Homo sapiens: one gene and its partner. The protein of the gene in region 1 purifies or fractionates together with the protein of each later gene. This does not show direct contact. Each region holds a gene or a part of one and is shown on either strand. Other genes may lie near its edges.

The links.
Region 2: the proteins of AIF1L (region 1) and TMIGD1 purify together in Homo sapiens (co-immunoprecipitation; one study listed by IntAct). This does not show direct contact.

What each region holds. Positions count from the first base shown.
Region 1 is NC_000009.12:131,094,937-131,099,361, reverse strand, and holds the start of AIF1L (allograft inflammatory factor 1-like), read right to left. Parts: upstream 2,832-4,425; 5' UTR 2,733-2,831; coding exon 2,702-2,732; intron 2,583-2,701; exon of another isoform or gene 2,561-2,582; coding exon 2,499-2,560; intron 1-2,498. UniProt on the Homo sapiens protein: Actin-binding protein that promotes actin bundling. May neither bind calcium nor depend on calcium for function.
Region 2 is NC_000017.11:30,331,000-30,335,567, reverse strand, and holds the start of TMIGD1 (transmembrane and immunoglobulin domain-containing protein 1 isoform 1 precursor), read left to right. Parts: upstream 1-1,510; 5' UTR 1,511-1,568; intron 1,569-3,409; 5' UTR 3,410-3,434; coding exon 3,435-3,516; intron 3,517-4,568. UniProt on the Homo sapiens protein: May control cell-cell adhesion, cell migration and proliferation, cell morphology, and protects renal epithelial cells from oxidative cell injury to promote cell survival.

The DNA of each region.
Region 1 (4,425 bases):
CCACAGTCTGCAAAGAGCTTCCATCCACTTCCATCGGTTAATTGTTGCAGGGACTCCAGAGGGGCAGAGATCCCTGCTCCCATTTCAGGCTGGGGAAGACGAGGTTCTGCTGGGCTGAGCAACCAGCATGAGCCAGGGCGGAGTATCTTCCACTCCCTGCACCTTGAGGCCACGAACAAAGAAACTGTCCTGATAGCTATCAGGGCCGCAGCCAGCTCTCCTGGGTGCTTTACATAGATTGTCTCACTGAAAAAATCACAACCATTATCTTTTTGGAGAAGGAGGCTCAGAGAGGTGAGTGGCTTGCCCAGAGTCACAGATCAGTGCTTGTGGGTACCTCATGACTAAACTGGTGGGGCCACCCTGCTCCACTGTGGTGAAGCAGCTCAAGCTTCCCGTGTGATCCTGGCGCCTCCTTCCTACAGGGCCCCAGATCCTGGGCCTCAGCAGCCCTACAGCGGCTGGGCTGTCATGGTGGGTCTCAGTACAGCGTCTTGGCAGGGGAAGGACGCTGGGCTGCAAGCTCTGTCACTGGCTTCTGCGTGGCCTTGGGTCAGCTGCTTGCCCTCTCTGGGCGCTGTCCTGAGGTGGTTAGACCACAGCTCCTTCCTGCTCACTTTCCCTAGTCCCAGTGCTGCCCAGATCAGCCCCTGACAGCTGTTAAAGTCCCTCCTCTTTCTAAGCCAAGCTAGTCGGTTTCCCAAAACAACCCTGGAGCCGCCCCCTCCCCCAACCCACCTCCCCAAGGGCTAGGTTGGCCCCGCCCTCTTAGCTCTTCTGGCTTGTCCAACCATGGTCACCTCACCCCCATCTCCAGCTGTCTGTGGCTCAGGGTCCCGCTGGCTGTGGGTGGCTCCAGCCAGCTCAGAACCCGCCTGGCCAAGTGACCCAGGGGGCTATATGAGGTCGGGGTTCCAGCCTTCTGTCCAGAGGGCTAGAGCAGCCAAGCCCCAGGCTGGGCAGGCACACAGTGATCTGGGAAGGAGCCCAGCAGGGATCCGAGACCCCTGAGCACCCCAGCCAGATGTCCGGGCAACCTTCCAGTTGTGCTCAAGATGCCCCCAGGAAGCAGGGTGAGGGTGGCGGTGAGGAGGCCGGAGCTTACCTGGAGGGGGAACCCTGAGGTCCCCAGAGCCCTGTAGCTGGGGACCGAATGGGAGTCCTGTAGCCAGCGGATGGAAAACAGACAGGCTGCCTACATCCAAGCAGTCCAAGAAAACCAAGGGGGAATCAAGGCTGCACACTGCTGGCAAGAGGCAATACCACAACCTGGCCCCAGGCTCGGACCCGCCTCCCACAGCCTTCTCGGGCTCTGCTGACCTCACCAGCGGCCCACTTCCAGACTGTCAGCTGGGCTTAGACCCTGGGTGTCCAGGGGACCAGAGGAGCCTGCAGGGGGAATGCCAAGCCTTGTTTCAGCGGGCGTGCCTCTGCCACCAGTTAAGAAGGAAACTGGGAGACATCCACCTCAGGAAATAATGCTAGTTCTGTGAGTGCTTCCTGAATGCTGGGTGCTGGGCCATGCAGGCCACGGGCCTTCCCTCTCTGAGCCTGCACAATGCCCTGCTTGGAGATGAGAGGCCCTTTGCTGAGGACCACAGAGCTGGCACACAGTGGAGGCCAGATCTGAGCCCAGGTCTTGCAGAACTTTAAAGCCACTGGCTGTGCTGCCTTTGAGCTTTGGCCAACCCAGACAGGTCCTGATATCTTTCCTTATCTTCTAGAATCTATGTAAATTTATGGAGCTCTCACTGGATGCCTGGCAACAACAGGAAAGATTTCTTTTGAGAAATCCACCAGGACCAGCAAGAAAAGCATTGAATCCCTTAAGGCAATCTTTCCTGAAAGTTGGAGTGAAGAGGAGTGGTGTGTTTGAGGGAGGCGGGAGGCTGGAGACCACGGGGAAGTGCCAGGATCTCTACGCCCATCAGAGTCTTCTATTTGTACTTTTGAATCCCTTATAACAACAATAGCTAAGGCCAGGCGTGGGGGCACATGCCTGTAGTCCCAGCTACTCGGGAGGATGAGGAGGGAGGACCGTTTGAATCCCAAAGGTGGAGGCTGCAATGAGCTGAGATTGGGCCACCGAACTCCAGCCTGGGCGACAGACCAGCAAATGACCCGGAGCCTGTGTTCTGAGCTGGAGAGATCACTGGCCTAGGGCCCTTCCCGCGCCAAATCCTTGGGCTGCTCCCAAGCGGGCTTGCGGGGAGCCACGAGCCGGCTGGCATCCGAGCTCCTGACCCGGCCCCACCTCCCCAGTCCCCAGTTGCAAGAGTAACAACTTGCAACCCGAGACCGGAGGCGGGAGGCGGAGGCGGACCTACCTGGAGTCGGAGGCGACGGGGCTGGGGGCGGAGGGAGGCACCTGAGGGAAGCCCAGGGGAAGGGAAGGAAGAGGGTAGATCTGGAGGCGGGCACGGCCTCGCGGAAGGAGAGGTGGCACCCGCGCAGCGCGCGGCTCGGGACTCGCGTGCTGCCCTGGGCGCGGGGCTTACCCGGTTGATCTCGGCCAGCCTCCTCTCCTGCCGGGCTTTGAGCAAGCCGAACGCCTTCCCTCCTGGAGGAGACAAAGAGGCGGCCTGGGAAGCGGGGTCCTCTTCGGGCCACGCGCCCCCGTCCCCGCCCGCTTCCCGCGCGCGGTGGACCCCGCGGTCCGCCCGGCGCGCACAGGTGGCTGCTCGGGGACGGCGGCGCCTACCTTGGAACCTGTTGCTGAGCTCGCCCGACATGGCGAGCGCGGGGCTCCCGCCGGCTCCAGGCTTCGCGGACGCGGCGAGGGACGAGGAGGAGGCACAGGCGCCTGGTCCGGGCTCCGGCTAGCTGCGTGTGGCCGCGGGACCGAGGGGCGGAGGAACGGCGCGGGCGGCCGACACACCCCTCCCTCCGCTGCCGGCCCCTCCCTCCCTCCCTCCCGCCTCGCCCCTCCCCTCCCGCCTCTCCCCTCCCCTCCCGCCTCTCCCCTCCCCTCCCGCCACCCGCTCCGCGGGCTTCAAAGCGGCTATTATGCGGGACGCTGAGCCCGCCGGCCGACCCCTCTGCTGGAGGACGCGGAAAGTGCAAAGCGCGGGGCGGCCGCACCCCTCCTCTCTGCCCCTCCCCGGACCTCAGCAAGTCCCTGCCACACAAATGAAATGCGAGGATCTTAGCATGAACTCCATGGGGTGGTTGTGAGGACCAAGTGCCGTCGGGGAGTCGGCGCTCAAACATCACTGCTGCCTTTGGGGCAGTGCGGCTGCTGTGACAACAGTGGCCCGTCAAATCAATTGGAATGAATTCGTGTCTTGTTAATAAAAGAGATTTCTTGGGCACTCACAGGCACTTTGCACCGTACACCAGTCATTTCATTCTCAAAACTCCATGAAATAGGACTTGGCATTCCCATTTCCAGAAGAGAAAAGTCAGGAAGCTGGAGCTGGGGCGCAAGGCCACCAGGAGGAAAGACCAGCCCATGACTCCAGGAAGAGCGGAGCTCAGGATGCAGGATAGGGTACCTGTGGCCAGGGTGACCATGAAGTCTAGTGTCCAAATCAGGACAGCCAGAGTCAAGGGAGCACTCCTCATAATGATGCTGGGCCACAGGCATAGACAGGCGCTGTCCAGGGCAGGCAGCGCTAGGAATGGCCCCACCGTGCATCTGACTCCTAGGGTAGGGACCCTGAGATCATCTTTCTTATTTATTTATTTTTTTCGAGGCAGAGTCTTGCTCTGTTGCCCAGAGCTGGAGTGCAGCGGCTTGATCTCGGCTCACTGCAACCTTCGCCTCCGGGTTCAAGTGATTCTCCTGCCTCAGCCTCCCAAGTAGCCGGGACTACAGGCACACACCACCACGCCCAGCTAATGTTTGTATTTTTAGTAGAGACGGGGTTTCATCATGTTGGCAAGGTTTGTCTCGAACTCCTGACCTAAGGTGATCCACCTGCCTCGGCCTCCCAAAGTGCTGGGATTACAGGCGTGAGCCACCACGCCCAGCCGAGATCATCATTTTTCTGTGGCTGTCCCTGGGGAGGGAAGTGCCCAGCAAGGGGCTAGGCAGAATGGGATGGGGCTGAGGTCAGGGCAGCAGTCCAGGGGGCAGGCCCCTCCTCCCCAGTAAGACCAGCGCCCACCTCTCCTAGCTGACGCTCCTCTGTCCACTCACCCAAGGGTTTGGATTTGGCCAAGCTGCATGACCTTAGGCGAGGCACTTGATCTGGCTGAGCTTCAGTCCCCTGATCTTCACAATGAAGTAACCCAGAACGCACTAAGCAGGGGCTTTTGTAACTTTGATGACTTGCTGGATGGTTTAAGCAGAGAGTAAAAGCTTAGCGTTACCACCCTTGGTGGATGGGAGCTGACTTAGGACAGAGCCCTCATAATGCACTTCCCTCTCCAGGCTCCAACAGCCTATTGCCCTGGCCGGTTGGGCTGGTTGGCTCCAGTCAG
Region 2 (4,568 bases), on another chromosome or scaffold:
ATTTTTCTATTTTTAGTAGAGACGGGGTTTCATCACATTGGCCAGGCTGGTCTCGAACTCCTGACCTCAAATGATCCACCCTCCTCGGCCTCCCAAAGTGCTGGGATTAAGGGAGTGAGCCACTCACCGTGCCCGGCCGAGATCACCTTTAAATAAACTATTGGCACTCAAAGCTCTGTCTCAGGGTCTATTTTGGAGGCACCAAGAACCAAAACATCACTCCATTGCTAAATTCATTTTAAAATGACAATCTTGGATCCCTGGAGAGGCAAACTCAAAACCTGTTTGGGTGGTGCTTGCAACCCAGCCAACAGGAGCTGCTCTTAGCTCTGATTTTTGCTTGAACAATGCTATAGTGAGGTTGTGTTGATTTAGGATGCCCTGCTCAGCCTATATTAATAATAATAGTAATAAGAGCTACTGTTTACCAAGAGCTTACTGTGCGGCAGATTCACATGCTTCATTTCATTTAATCCTCACAGTGACTCCGTAGGGAGGGTACTATTACTATTTCCATTGTATTGATGAAGATCCTGAGGCTCATGGAGGTTAAATAACTTTTCAAAGTTACATAGCTAGTAAGAGGCAGATTGCTGGTGTGCTTCAGCAGTGTGTTAAAATGTGTAGATAACTATAAATATTCTTCTGTTATATTTTTGTGTAAATGGGAACAATAGTACTTGGCAGATAAAATTTGCATCGTTAACAATACCATAAACATAGTGTAATGCAAGGATCTCCCAATCAGGTGAGAGCCTCAAGAGGATAAAACTGTTCCCTAGGCCAAGGTGGGCAGATTGCTTAAGGCCGGGAGTTAGAGACCAGCCTAGGAAACATGGCGAAATTTCATCTCTACCAAAAATATATATATTAACAAAGTTTAGCTGGGCATGGTGACTCACGCCAGTAGTCCTAGCTCCTTGGGAGGCTGGGAGCAGAGGTTCAGTCAGCCACAATTGTGCCATTGCATTCCAATCTGGGTGACAGAGTGAAACCCTGCCTCAAAAAACAAAACAAACAACAACAACAAAAAAACGGCTCCCTGCCATGCCTGGCTTGGTACAGCTTATGCACTGGGCTTGGGTTACTAGTGGTAACTAAGACTTTTCCAGCATTATTTAAGTTGTGTAGAATCTTCCAATGTTTTGACCTCTGTTAAAGTCAAACTTCTCTTTGGACTCGTCCCTTCACAATCCCCAGGCTAGATGATCAAAACGCAGCCATCTTACTTAAATATGACAATATTCAGTGAGATGCGCTACAGATTTTTGCACAAGTTCAAGCTTTCTTGGAACAACACATCCCTGTTAGTAATATCCGGCCCCACCTAGTAACCGAGGTAGACATAGAAACTTAGATCTTAAGAAGATGTCTTTCCCAATTACTATCTTCTCTAAGACTCCATAAAGAAAAACAGACTTTGAACCCAAGTTATCTTATTTATTTGACCCTGCTGTCATAAAGCGTTCAAATTCAAGTATTATAAAGGATTGTAACAGGGAAAGCATTTAGGGTTTTCAGGCAGAGGAACAGTTGGCCAAGGAAGTCAGCTTCTCAGAGCTCAAGAGGTAAGTGGTAAGACTGTCTTATATAGAAAGTAGAGAGTCATACAGATTAAAAACAAGCCAAGTGAGGGGAATACATTTTGAAAAGTTGCTGTCTCGGTGGAGTGGAGGGAAAGAGAAGACATAGATTTGTCCCCTTAATAGGGCTGGGTGAGGTCTGGCAAGAAGCCTGCACTCTCAGTTTTTATTGAGTACTTGTAGTGCAGAGCGCTTGAGAAAACTCTACTATTGACCACATTCTGCAGTAATCACTGTTACAACACTGTGATAGAAATCTTTTTGGCAAATATTTAAAATTACAAAAGAATCAATATTAGTAGTAATTGCATCTTACGAAAAGATTGATGCAGGCTTGTCTGCCAGAAAGGGTGAGCCTGGCATGAATGAAACTTACTCCTGTCAGGGCACGCCTGGGACAGGGGAGGAGTAGAGTAGGTATAGGTATATTTCAGCTCTTGTAAATTAATACTGGTGTTAAGGGGAGAGAACTCCCAGTGGCCAGGGACTGGAAAAGATTAACAGCAGCTTTTTTTTATTTTTTTATTTTTTATTTTTATTTTTTGAGACCGAGCCTCACTCTGTCGCCCAGGCTGGAGTGCAGTGGCATAATCTTGGCTCACTGCAACCTCCACCTCCCAGGTTCAAGCAATTCTCCTGCCTCAGCCTCCCGAGTAGCTGGGATTACAGGCGCTCGCCACCATGCCTGGCTAATTTTTTTTTTTTTTTTTTGCATTTTTAGTAGAGATGGGGTTTCACTATGTTGGTCAGGCTAGTCTCAAACTCCTGACCTCAGGTAATCCACCTGCCTCAGCTCCTAAAGTGCTGGGATTACAGGCATGAGCCACTGCACCCAGCCTAACAGCAGCTTCTTAAAGGAAAAGAATATTAATCTAGGCAGTAGATTGGGTAGTAGGGTGGTTGAGAGTAGGGTGGTTAAGAGCATGGTCTTGGGAGTCTGGGTTCAAATCCCGACCTTGACATTTACTGTCTGTGGGATCTCAGGCAAATTACATAGTCTCTTTAAATCTATAGAAACGACCTCAGGAGGGTTGTTAGGAGGCTTAATTGTGACTGAAATGATGTATGTAAAGTGTTTAGCACAGTCCCTGTTGCGCAGAAAGTTTTCCGTATGTGGTTCGCTATATTTATAGTAGTACTCTTGAAAGGAAGTAATGAATATATGTTTTTTTCCCAGATGGAAATGGAGAATATCTTAGGGAGAGGGAGAGTTGAAGCAAAAGCAAGAAGGGAGAAAGGACACCTTTATTATTTATTATTTTTAGTCCATTGGGTCAAGGGGAAGAGAGAGAGAGAATAGTGGGAGAAAGACAAGATTAACATGGTTTAAACTAGAGGCCATGTTTCAATTGAGGCTTTTCTACGTACACACCATTTGAATCTATGGGATTTGGAGTAGTCTCAAAAACTCTCTATTATCAGAGAACATCTTTACAAAAATGACCCAAGAAAAACTTTCAGAACAAGAATTACTTTGTTCAGTAGGGACTGTCTGAGAATGAGACAAGTTTCATTCTGCTAAAATGAAATTCTATCAGTTTCTCTAGGGAAGACTGGTTTCATCTTCCCCAGGGCACCCTGACGCTGCTCTATCTGTCATAGCCTATTTCCTGTGGTTTTATGTTGCTTTTAAAAAAAATTTCTTACTACTAAATGTACTTTGAACTTAGTCAGACAGGGTTGTTTAATTAAAAGCTAGAAGTAGTACCGTTATAGCTGGGATGATTCATCTGGGACTTCACTTTAAATGCATAATAGACAGAAGGAAGGTTCACGAACTCATTGCAGACCAAAGTACAAAACCAACTGCACTATTTTTCCCTTAGTAGATCTGAGTTTAACTCATTAAAGATGGCATGGAAGAGCAGTGTCATAATGCAAATGGGAAGATTTCTTCTCTTAGTAATTTTATTTCTGCCACGTGAGATGACAAGTAAGTTAAAGTTCTTTTTGGCCTCTTTTTAGATAAAGAAAAATTTCCGATTAAGAAAAGTGATCAATGGGCATTGGATATATCCTTAAATTCCAAATTGGAATGACTACACAGTTAGCATGGCTCACAGTACAGGAGTCAACTAACAATAAAAAATCAAATGGAGGCCAGGCGGGTGGCTCACGCCTGTAATCCCAACACTTTGGGAGGCCGAGGCAGGTGAATCATGAGGTCAGGAGATCGAGACCATCCTGGCTAACACGGTGAAACCCCATCTCTACTAAAAATACAAAAAATTAGCCTGGTGTGCTGGCAGGCGCCTGTAGTTCCAGCTACTCGGGTGGCTGAGGCAGGAGAATGGCGTGAACCCAGGAGGTGGAGCTTGCAGTGAGTGAGCCGAGATTACGTCACTGTACTCCAGCCTGGGCGACAGGGCGAGACTCCGTCTCAAAAAAAAAAAAAAAAAAATCAAATGGAAAAATATTGTTTTTAGGGTTTTATTATTACAAGACAAGGTGAAGTATTCTATTCTCTCCAGAGCCACCACCAGAATCCTCCTACATTTTAATGCATTTTATTACTAATGTTACCCCAAATAATCATCTGTTTATCTGAACATACCATTTCACATGAAAATCTTTCCAGCATTTGCTCTCCTACCACTCTTTTCTGATTTTAAAAGTAATGCATAGTCATTGTAAAATAAATCAGGCAATCTATAAAAAAAAAAAGAAAAGTACAAATCCCCCCAAATACTTTCATCCAGAGATGACAACCACTCAATATTCCATATTTTAATAAAATACTAGACAACAATACCATTATCTTTACAAGTAGCTTAAGTTTTTTGCTTTTTTGAGAAGAAGTCTCACTTTGTTGCCCAGGCTGGAGTGCAGTGGTGTGATCTTGGCTCACTGCAACCTTCATCTCCCAGGTTCAAGTGATTCTCCTGCCTCAGCCTCCCGAGTAGCTGGGATTACAGGAGCCCGCCACCATGCCTGGCTAATTTTTTTGTATTTTTAGTAGAGACAGGGTTTCACTATGTTGGCCAG